Regions from separate parts of the Homo sapiens genome. Here region 2 is linked to region 1. The links come from fine-mapping of genetic effects on gene expression. A gene starts in region 1. The other region holds a variant in brackets. All regions are shown on one strand. Distances are between the middles of the regions. Region 1 holds the start of KRT4 (keratin 4). Region 2 has its middle 9.2 kb from the start of KRT76.

The links. PIP is the estimated chance that this variant, and not a neighbour inherited with it, causes the effect. A credible set is the group of variants that fine-mapping cannot tell apart.
Region 2: its variant is the best candidate, but not a certain one, in a credible set for the expression of KRT4 in lung (TOPMed, PIP 0.60).

What each region holds. Positions count from the first base shown.
Region 1 is chr12:52,811,049-52,816,423 of GRCh38, forward strand. It overlaps KRT4 (keratin 4), which reads right to left and starts at 3,068. Exons shown (of 9, transcript NM_002272.4): 1 at 2,549-3,068; 2 at 715-929. The coding sequence starts at 3,010. RefSeq lists a silencer at 1,773-1,973 and an enhancer at 2,139-2,640.
Region 2 is chr12:52,783,831-52,789,205 of GRCh38, forward strand. No RefSeq gene overlaps it. Among named protein-coding and RNA genes, the nearest start is that of KRT76, 9.2 kb to the left of the region's middle. The variant G/A (reference allele first, on the strand shown) is at 2,938.

The DNA.
Region 1 (5,375 bases):
GTTTTCGATAGAAAACCCAGCAATGATGTAGTTGATTTAATGTCCCTGAAAGGGCTGTCCTTTTGGCCATTTTGGCAGATTAAATTCTCAGCAATGTCATCAGCACACTCCATTTCCCTTTGTTTGGTGGGTGAGTGAATTGAGAGACAGGGTTGGTATTTATTTTGTCAGTCCTATCCCATAGTGAGTTTAATGAGAGGTGCTGTGTATTCAGTGTTCACTCTGTGTCCTGAAATATGCCACATGCTTTCTCTATTTCATTTAATTCCATTTAATTCTCACAACCCATAAAGTAGGAATATTATCCCCATTTCAAAGATGAATAAAACTGAAGCTCAGAGAGGTTCAGCTATTTACCCAAGGTCACACAGCTAGTAAGTGAGGACTCAGTATGCAAACCACCTCCATCTGTCTCTACAGTCTGTATTCTTCTAATCATACTATACTGCTTTTCATCTATTTGGGTTCTGATCTTGTTCGTATATGGCAGACCCAAATCCCTGAATCTATCATTAAATTTCCTTTCGGAAAAATCTGTGGTTACCAGACCTCACCCTGAGAAAACGTGACTATGTGGATGTAGCAAAACAGACTAGAGGGCCTTCCTAGACGCCTTCAGAGCCTGAGATTCTAAGCCACTGGAGAGAGCCCCGGGAGCCTGGGTGTGGCTGGGCACATGTGTCAGATGGCGTCCCCTCCTTCCTCCCCATGTACTTAGTCTTGAAGTCCTCCACGCTGTCCTGCATGGTCTTCAGCTCAGACTGCAGGCGCCCTTTGTCATTGCCCAAGGTATCTAGCTGCTTCCTCAGGACACTGAGGTAGGTCTCAAAGAGGGGCTCAAGGTTTTTGCTGGAGGTGGTGGTCGTCTGCTGCTGGAGCAGGTTCCATTTGGTCTCCAGGACCTTATTCTGTTGCTCTAAGAACTGCACCTGTGTTGATAAAGGCACCAGCCAAGTGATGAGGGCCTGAAGTGTGGCAGGAGGGCCAGCCAAGGCAACACCAACCCAGTCAATCCCAGGGAACTACACGGCCCAAGAACCACCCAAGTAGGGCCACTATGTTGCATCTCCAGGGCACCATTCACTCGGGTTGACATGATGGCCCCATTCTCGAGCCCATAGCACCAAGGGGTCACATAGGTTGTGGAGAATAGAGCACAGCCAGAGAAGCAGGGCCTAACAGTGCAACAAGAACAACTTCCTAGCCGCAGGCACCCAAAGCCCCAAAGAACATTAAACTTCTATGAAATAACAAAATAAAATTAAGAGACATCACAATCTGGAGGCTCTTGCATTCAAAGTGATCCTGACCCAAGGCAAATGAAAGACAAAGTCACTACAGACTTTTTAAATAAGCTTACTTATCAATGGATCTGGCGTGTCCCTGTGAACCTGTGAACAACTGAGTATAGATATTTAAAACAAGGGCCCTGTACGCATTGTCTCACCTAAACTCCATTCTGCAAAGGACTTTCCTGAACTTTCCCTCTCTCTATGAAAAAATCTAGCCAGACAAACCAGGACAGCAGCTTAGCATGACATTTCCATGTTATGAGCCTCAGAATTGAAAGGAAAGCAGGTAAGGCAGACCGATCACATTTTGAACCCAAAAGGTAAAATGAGATGAGATGAGACAAGGATGCATCAAAGAGCCCTGAGTTTTTGCTATCACATCTGCATGTCCTATAGTCACAGTAAAACCTCTTTAAGTTACTATGGGTTTATTCAAACTAGCAAGAAGAACAAATATGCACCTTATTCTATTCCAAAAGTGTTCATTCTTGCCCCATATGTCGAAGCTGCCCAAGACTTTGATGCCTGGTGAACCAGGGCAACCTGGACCAAAGGGAGGCACTCATCCACCCAGTCATCAATCTTTGGATGACTCGGCTCTCTGGGGCTGCACTGCTCACTATCATCCATCATGCATGACCATAACTGAGCTTAAAGAACTTGAACTTCTAGACGTTGCATGAAAAAGGAAGTTGGGCTACAAAAAGAAAAGAGACCTGTCTCCTTTCTTCAAACAGACCCAGACATGAGCAGTGTTGTCCAGTCAAAGGAATGAAAAAAGTAAATTTCCAAGGCCTTGGTGAGACCTAGAATCTGCCACTGGAGCCAGTCCCTTTTTCATTTGCAAAATCAGCTTAGTTGTCTTCTGTTCTAAGAACAGAAGTGGCCACTGTTAAGTGATTAATGGGGTTAACTGCATTATATTCAAAACCAAAATCTGAGAAAAAGCAGAGAAATAATGAACCCCCTTTATAGCTGGGATGACTAGAGCCAGAAAAGCCAAATGATTTGTCCAGTATCCCACAGCCTGTCTAGGGAATTCCAAACACTTAACTGCCTTGAGCATCCCACCTTCCCACCAGCCACGGGACAAAAAGGAAGGCTCAAAGTCATGATGCCCCTTCAACAGCTGGAGAATTGGGGCCCAGGGAAGTTCAGTGGTCTCCCCAGCACCTGTGGCAGGCTCAGGTCTGAGACCCCAGGACTCAGGACCCCTCTCTTCTAACTGCCCCTCTCCAGCCGAGGACACAGCTCACCTTGTCGATGAAGGAGGCAAACTTGTTGTTGAGGAGCTTGATCTGTTCGCGCTCTTCCGTCCGGACTTTCTGGATCTCAGGGTCAATCTCCACGTGGAGGGGGGTGAGCAAGCTCTGGTTGATGGTGACCTCCTGAATTCCCCCAGCGGGGCAGACGGGGAAGCCAGGGCCACCCTTACCACTGAAGGAGCCCCCAAATCCACCACCAAAGCCACCAGTGCCAAAGCCTCCAGCACCCCCAAAGCAGGCACCTTGTCGTGACCCAGCCACACTCATGGAGATGCTTTTGTTCCCCCTGAGGTTGTAGAGGCTTCTGCTGCCAAATCCCCCAGAAGAGCATCGGCCAGCACCTCCAGACATGGAGACTGAGCTGAAGGCACCTCTCTTGCCACCGCCTACAATGGCCGAGCCACAGCTGAAGCCCCGGGGCCCGCCTCGGACACACTGCTGTCTGGCAATCATGGCTGCAGAGAGCGAGCTGGGAGCTATCAGAGAAGTGACAGGGCCCAGGCCGGTGAGTGCTGGAGCCCTCAGCCTTCGTCTCTTATATGTCCTGGAGCAGCAGGGCTTGGTTGCAGGGGCATAAAGGGAAAAATCTGAAACATCTCTGGGCTTGGCCCTTGGCACAAGCCCATCCTTCCCGCACCCGTTGAGCATGTCACTAAACACACCTACAGAAGTCATCTGGAGGGCACAGGTTACTGGATCCCATCACACTACTCTCTGGGAGAACCTGAACTGGTGCCCCAGGGCTTCCTAATCAGAAGCCCCTGCCTGGGCCCAGCGCTCCAGGCCCACACCCACTGTACCTCCATCTCGCTAGGCTCACAGCACCTCCCTCCTCCAGAAAAGACACCCCATCACCCATCCTCTCACCCCACAGAATGTGGAGTTAGACAGCCTGAGTTTGAGCGCACAGCCTGCCACCTCCTAGCTCTGCAAACCGGAGCAAGTCACCCTCTGAGGCCCAGTTGCTTTCCCTGTAAATTGGAAGTAATACAAATATTTGCCTTGCCACTTCTCAGGATAGAGTGAGCTAGTGATTAATGGAGTGCTCTGTAAACTGTCAAAAGCCACATGTATATTTGTCATTCTTAGCATTCTTATTCCTCCACATGTTCTTGGCTCCATGTACCTATAAAAAGGGGAAATATTCTGTATTCCAGCCTTAGCCTTCCAACCTAGATCCAGATTCACTTCAACTTGGCCAACAGCTACTGAGAAACTGCCAGGCATGGAGCTAGGTACTAAGGAGATGGGGGAAGACAAAACACCTCCCCAAAGAAAACCGTGACTGTCTTTCTCAGCCCTGGGTACCCATGCTGCCCCGCAGGCCTCCCTTCAATCTGTGCTTGCACAATTCTAGATGGGCGTTCTCCAGCGGGGTCTGGTGGTGTGCACTCTGCTGCTCCATTTGCTGTCCAGTTGTTTGCTAGGTGTGTTCTGGTTTTCTGTAATGGTGCAGAATTCAGGGCAGGAGTTCATAACTTTTTTGCTGCTGGGGATCCCTTTGGCAGAATGATGAAACCTATGGATCCCTTCTCAGAGCAATGTTTTTAAATGCAAAATCCTAGTTTTAAGCCATAACTTAAATTCTTCCCAACTGAACAGTAACAGATCTGTGTTCAAATCCCTCCTGTTGCCACTAACTAGCTGTATAACCTTGGGTGGGCCAACTAAGCACTCTAAACCCATCCAATATGGTTTGGCTCTGTGTCCCCACCCAAATCTCATCTTGAATTGTACTCCCATATTTCCCACACATTGTGGGAGGGCCCCGGTGGGAGATGATTGAATTATGGGGGCGGTTTCCCCCATACTGTTCTTGTGGTAGTGAATAAGTCTCACGAGATCTGATGTTTAATAAGGAAAAACCCATTTTGCTTGGCTTTCATTCTCTCTCTTGCCACCACCATGTAACAAGTGCCTTTTGCTTTCTGCCATGATTGCGAGGCCTCCCCAGCCACATGGAACTGTTAAGTCCAATAAATCTCTTTCTTTTGTAAATTGCTCAGACTCAGGTATGTCTTTATCAGCAGCGTAATAATGGCCTAATACACCATCCAATCCATCTTCTCATCTACCAAATGGGACACCTGCCTCACAAGGAATTAGACAATGTCCCCATGGTGCCTGGCATATAGGAGGTCAGCAGGCATTCATTCTCTTCTTTCCCAGGCTTTGCCATTGCCATTTACAGGGAGAAATCTGGTGTGTTTGTTCTCCCTCCTTTCCTCAATTCCTCATAGATGAAATGACCCCAGGTCTGAGGAAGAGCAGTCACCAGCACCTGGATAATCCCACAGACCCAAGCTGCCCCTAGCTGAATGAAAGCTGGCCAGGGAGAGAGTGAACGGCTGCCTCCATGCACAGAGAGAGGGCAGGGGCCAGTGCTGAGGACAGAGTGGTCAGGAGATCCCACCCCAGACGCAGGGCTGCAGGGAAGGCCAGGCTGGCTGGGAGTTCAGCCAGCTCCTTCTCCAGCCACTTCCTCCCTTGTCCCCATTCCCCCAACCCCTCCCTCCCCTACCTCGGGTCTGTCTCTGCCAAGATGGCCTCTAAGTAAGTGGAGAGGGGGTGGAGGGGCTGTGGCCATGAGGACTGGAGGCCCCAGGCCCCATCACAGGAGAATGCCCGCGTCATGGGTCAGTCCACCTGCAGTAGGTGAGCATTCTAGAGCCAGAACCATCTCCTAGAAGGAAGGGGTTGGACTTTCACTGATCCTTTCTGCCCAGATTCACCAAGCGCCGACTTCGTGCCAAGCTCTGTGCTGGATGCTTTACCTACATTTGATCAACTAGTCTACTTAGAGGCTCTATGGAGTCAG
Region 2 (5,375 bases), 27 kb before region 1:
ATGCCCAGAATATGACTTGCACTAGTCACAAAAGTTAGTTGTTTAATCCAGTTGTTTTTGTTAAATATGTCAGGGCAGTAATTATCTTTAAGAGTCTACCCTACCCTTTTCAAAATCTCATTAGCTTAGTGAAGCTCACAGTGCCTGCTATGTGCCAGGCATTTTGCTGGTCACTGAGGAGCACAAAGATGAATCAGGCAGAGCCATCCCTTCGAGTAACTTCTATCTTAATGTGGAGAACAGGCACTGAAACTAGTCATTTTAATATAATACGGCACATGATAAAAAGGGATAGACAAAGTCCCATGGGAGTCCAGACAGATGCTCAGTGCCATGGAGGGTCTAGGAAGGTTTTCAGAAGGCAGTGCCTGGGTAATCCTCAGTGATGAGTGAGGCAGGGCAAGTGGGTGAAGGCGGGATGAGCATTCCTGACAGAGAACAGAGCATCAAAGGCACAGAGGCGTGAGAAAGCCAGGTTGATACCAGAACTGCAGGCACCTTGTAGGCCATTTGCACAGGTCTTGAAAGTCTCCACATAAGGCCACACTGTTTCCTTGGCTTTTTTCCTATGTCTTCATCCAGAATAAAAGGGCATTTCCGTTTTAAAATAAACAAACTTCGGCCAGGCATGGTGGCTCATGCCTGTAATCCTAGCACTTTGGGAGGCCGAAGCGGGCAGATTGCCTGACTCAGGAGTTCGAGACCAGCCTGGGCAACATGGTGAAAGCCGGTCTCTACTAAAATACAAAAAAAAAAAAAATTAGCCAGGCATGGTGGCATGCACCTGTAGTCCCAGCTACTCGGGAGGCTGAGGCAGGAGAATCACTTAAACCCATGAGGTGGAGGTTGCAGTGAGCTGAGATCATGCCACTGCACTCCAGCCTGGTGGCAGAGCGAGACTCCATCTCATAAAAAAAAAAAAAAAAAACTTCTACAAATACATACTTCCCTCAAATCCACAAGGATCTCTATCCAGTTCAACTATAACCCATATCACTGTAACTAAAGATCTTCTCCCAAGGAGAGAAATGAATGAGACGACCTCTTGTTTGGCACAGCTTTCTCTGCAGTGGCACTGTGGACATTTGAGGCTGGCTGTTTATATGTTGAAGGGGGCTGGCTTGTGTGATGTGGGATGTTTAGTAGCAACCTGGCTTCTACTCTCTAGATGCCAGTAGCACTCCCCGACTTGTGACAACCAAAAATGTCACTAGACATTGCTATATGTTCCCTGGGGAGCAAAATTGCCCCCACTGAGAGTCACAGCATTAGTTCCACCTAGAGTCACCTTCTCCTGCCACCGTCTTCTCCAGTGGTTGACGGAGCTGTCACCATTCAGTCTCATCACCACAGATTCCAAAAGTATCAGATTCTCCCAGCACACCTCCATCAATGGTTCCCTAGGAGAGCCAAGTCACCTTCAGCCTTCAGCCTGGACTGGAAGTGTTGATGGGGATTAGCTCTATCTTAGGCACAACAGAGATGTGTGTTAGACAATGTGTATGCCAGAAGGGCTTGTGAAGGATGTAGTGAAGATTCAGATAAAATGTGTGAAGAAGCATTTTCAGAACTTAAGTGAGTTTTTCTCGGTCATCCCAAGATTATCTCAAGGTTCCCACACTTTTTGTCTTTGTCTTTGTCTTTGCATAGAGGGAGAATACACATGGGCTGAAGTGCTGAGAAGGCAGAGAGAAGAGGCAGTCCAAATCCCAGAAAGTGAGATCTCTGATGCTTGGCTAACAAACACTCCACCCAGTTCTAGGCAAAACAGAGAAGAGTCATGTAGAGATTTACCTGCAAATTACACAAAACGTTACATGCAAAACTTGATCATCAGCAGTCAAGTCTAGATTATCCATAGGCAAGCGCTGAACTACTTTCAAATTCTTGTGGAAAACAACCCTCTGATTTCCTTAACTGAGCCTTTCATAGGTGTGACACTGTTACCACTGATACTTGCTCTGACATGTAGCCTGTATTCTCACAAAGATATAGAAGGAAAACCTGAAATCTAAAAACACAACTTGGTCTTCCTAATGGGAAGTGAACCAGTGAGTCCGCAAGCTCTTAGAACAGGAAAACACTCTTTTGAGCATTTCTTCTGGGGAAGACAGTGTGGGGGTGGTTGGAGGGGATAGATGATGATAGATAGATAGATAGATAGATAGATAGATAGATAGATAGATAGATAGAGGCGTAGGGTAGAAGTTGGTTCCTCTATGTCCAACAATGATAGACTGGATTAAGAAAATGTGGCACATATACACCATGGAATACTATGCAGCCATAAAAAATGATGAGTTCATGTCCTTTGTAGGGACATGGATGAAATTGGAAATCATCATTCTCAGTAAACTATAGCAAGAACAAAAAACCAAACACCGCATATTCTCACTCATAGGTGGGAATTGAACAATGAGAACACATGGACACAGGAAGGGGAACATCACACTCTGGGGACTGTTGTGGGGTAGGGGAAGGAGGGAGGGATAGCATTAGGAGATATACCTAATGCCAGATGACGTGTTAGTGGGTGCAGCGCACCAGCATGGCACATGTATACATATGTAACTAACCTGCACATTGTGCACATGTACCCTAAAACTTAAAGTATAATAATAATAAAGAAAGAAAGAAAAAAAAAGAAGTTGATTCCTCTTTTTCATTGCAAGTGGATATACCTCTCCACACCCAGGAAAGAGAGATGTGGAAGAGAGAGCAAAGAAATTCTTGACCATTGGCCAAAGACCCCAAATCCCAGTTTAGGATCCAGGCTCACAAGTAGGCATTATTCAACAATCACTGTGAGCTCTTTGTGGGCAAAAGTATGCCTTAGAGGACAGGAAAAGCATGGACAACACAGGACTCACTATGTACTAGAAGAATGAAAAGTCTAGTCAAGTACAAGAAAGCAAACTCAAGCCCAGTGACTTAAGA[G/A]CTCTTGAAAAGTCAACATAGAATTGTGCAAAAAAACTATGCAAATGCTAAGGCAAAGGAAAAGAAGGAGCACTGAGAAGCAGGTGAAGTTCCCTGCAAGGGGTTTTCAGCCTGGATTAGAAACAGTCAGGGCCTGGCAGGGCGCGGTGGCTCATGCCTGTAATCCCAGCACTTTGCGAGGCAGAGGCGGGCGGATCACCTGAGGTCAGGAGTTAGAAACCACCCTGGCCAGCATGGCAATCTCTACTAAAAATGCAAAAATTAGCTGGGCTTGGTGGCTTGCACCTATAATCTCAGCTACTCAGGAGGTTGAGGCACAAGAATCACTTGAGCCCAGGAGGGAGAAGTTGCAGTGAGCCAAGATAGTGCCACTGCACTACAGCCTGAGTGACATAGGGAGACTCCATCTCAAAAAATAAAGAAAGAAAGAAACAGTCAGTGCTGGGCTGAGAATATCCAGCCAAGCATGGAGTTAACTCCTTGGGTCCTAGGTCCTGGCACCAAGGTAACCTGCCCTGGCCATTCCTCTGGAACAATGACATCTCCAAGAAATAGCCTCTCCACCCCACTCCTCCTGTACCAGGCTGTCCTTTAAGAAGCTGCATGGAGCCCCATCCCACCACCTCACCACTAGTTGTTACTTAGGTAGCAGGGGTTCCTGTAAACCCCACAGGAGAAACAAGTGCCAGCGAGCACAGGTCCAGGGAGGAACAGCAAAGGACAGAGGTCACAGTCTGAACATGAGACTTGAAACCAGTGTGCATAGTACCCAGGAAGGCCAGGCCTGCTCTGGGCTTTCCTTGGAGCCAATTTAGAACCCCCATGACTGCTTGGGTGGGGGCACTCTGAAGAACGTGGCCTAGGCTCCACCATCTGGTTGATTGCACTCCTGTCCCTGACTCTACATTCAAGTCTGCTTTGGTTCTCAGCATGGGCCCTCTTCTCCACCCTCTCTCTGGAAAAACTCATTAGTTTCCATGGCTTTAAAATCCACCCTTAAGCTGATGATGTCCAGATGCGAGTGTCTAGCCCTGACGGGGCCCCCTTCTGAATCTACAGGCTCACATCTCTCCTGGATGTCTCATGTGGCTATCTCGTGAGCAGCTCCTGCTTTTCTAAAGCACAGCTGAAGTTTCTCTCCACACCCATCTCGCCCTCCCACCCCTCCACTCACCTCAGTAAATGGCACCACCAACCACCCAAGTGGTCATACTGGGAAACTGGGCATCCTGGTTGAATCTCCCCTTTCCCTTAACCTCCCCACCTCCATCCAGTCCATTAACCAGTCCTGGCATCCATCCAACTCAGCCTCTAGTTTCATTTCTTTATATACTTCCCACAGCTTAAAATTATTGTGTTCATTTGGTTTGCTTACTTTTTTTGTTGACTCCCTTACTAAAATGAGGGTGGGGTCAACATCTGATTTCTTGCTCACCAATTCGTCTCCAGAATTTAGCCCAGTTCCAGACAGAAAATAAACACTTAATGAATACTGGTTGAATGAGTGAAAGAAGGAATTCATTGATAAAGACTTTGCCCAGGGTGAAGCAGCTGCCCCATGACTGGCCTGGCACAGTCCCATAGGGCGAGCCCCCTAAACTGGGTTGGGCACTGAGCCTCCCCACCTGTGTCTCCTACTCCTTTCCACAGAAGGATACCAACCAGAAAAGGTACCTTCCTACCCAAATGTGAAGCAACAGCTCCTAAATCCCACCTCCTTCAAAAAGTGGATCCAGTAGCTGGATTTCCAGGCTGAATCTCTTCAACCCCCAGTTGCAGGTTTTCTTTATCTAACTGCTTTTCCTCATCTCTAAAATAAATTCAGCCTTGTCCAAGGATGGAAATACTGCTTCCCTGGCCTGGCCTGGCCTGACTACACATTTCTATTCCACAGCCTGTGTGTTCTCTCCGGGTGCCCCGGCAGTGTGACATGCCTGGAAGGCATCCTCGAAGACAGTGTGGGGAAGTGGAGGGAGCTCCGGACTTGGGATGCAGGGCTTCATTCCTAGCTCAGGCATTCACATGCTATAAGACCCTGGAGGAGTCACCCCTCCTCTCTGAGCCTCAATCTTTTCATTTGGAAGCAAAGGCCTTGGACTCCTTGCTTCTGAGTCCTTTCCAGCAGTCACCTTCTGGACAGCACTCCCATGGCCAACTAACACATTATCAGAGCTTCTTGGTGCAGGGCAGAAGCCAGGATGACAAGAACTCTCATGGCTGGTGCACCTATTTTCAGGCCCCAAGTGCATGCACAGTGCTAGGTGCAGGAATGGGGGCCTCTGCAGGAAATGTTGGATTCAAGGAAGCTAACAGGTTTTCCTTGCTACTGAACTTCTTAGAAACTCTAATATGTGCTCCAAAAAGAAAAGATGTAATGGGCGTGGAGTCTTTTATTGCAGAGTGTCTCAATGGAATGGTGTTCCTGGGTCAGACTTTGA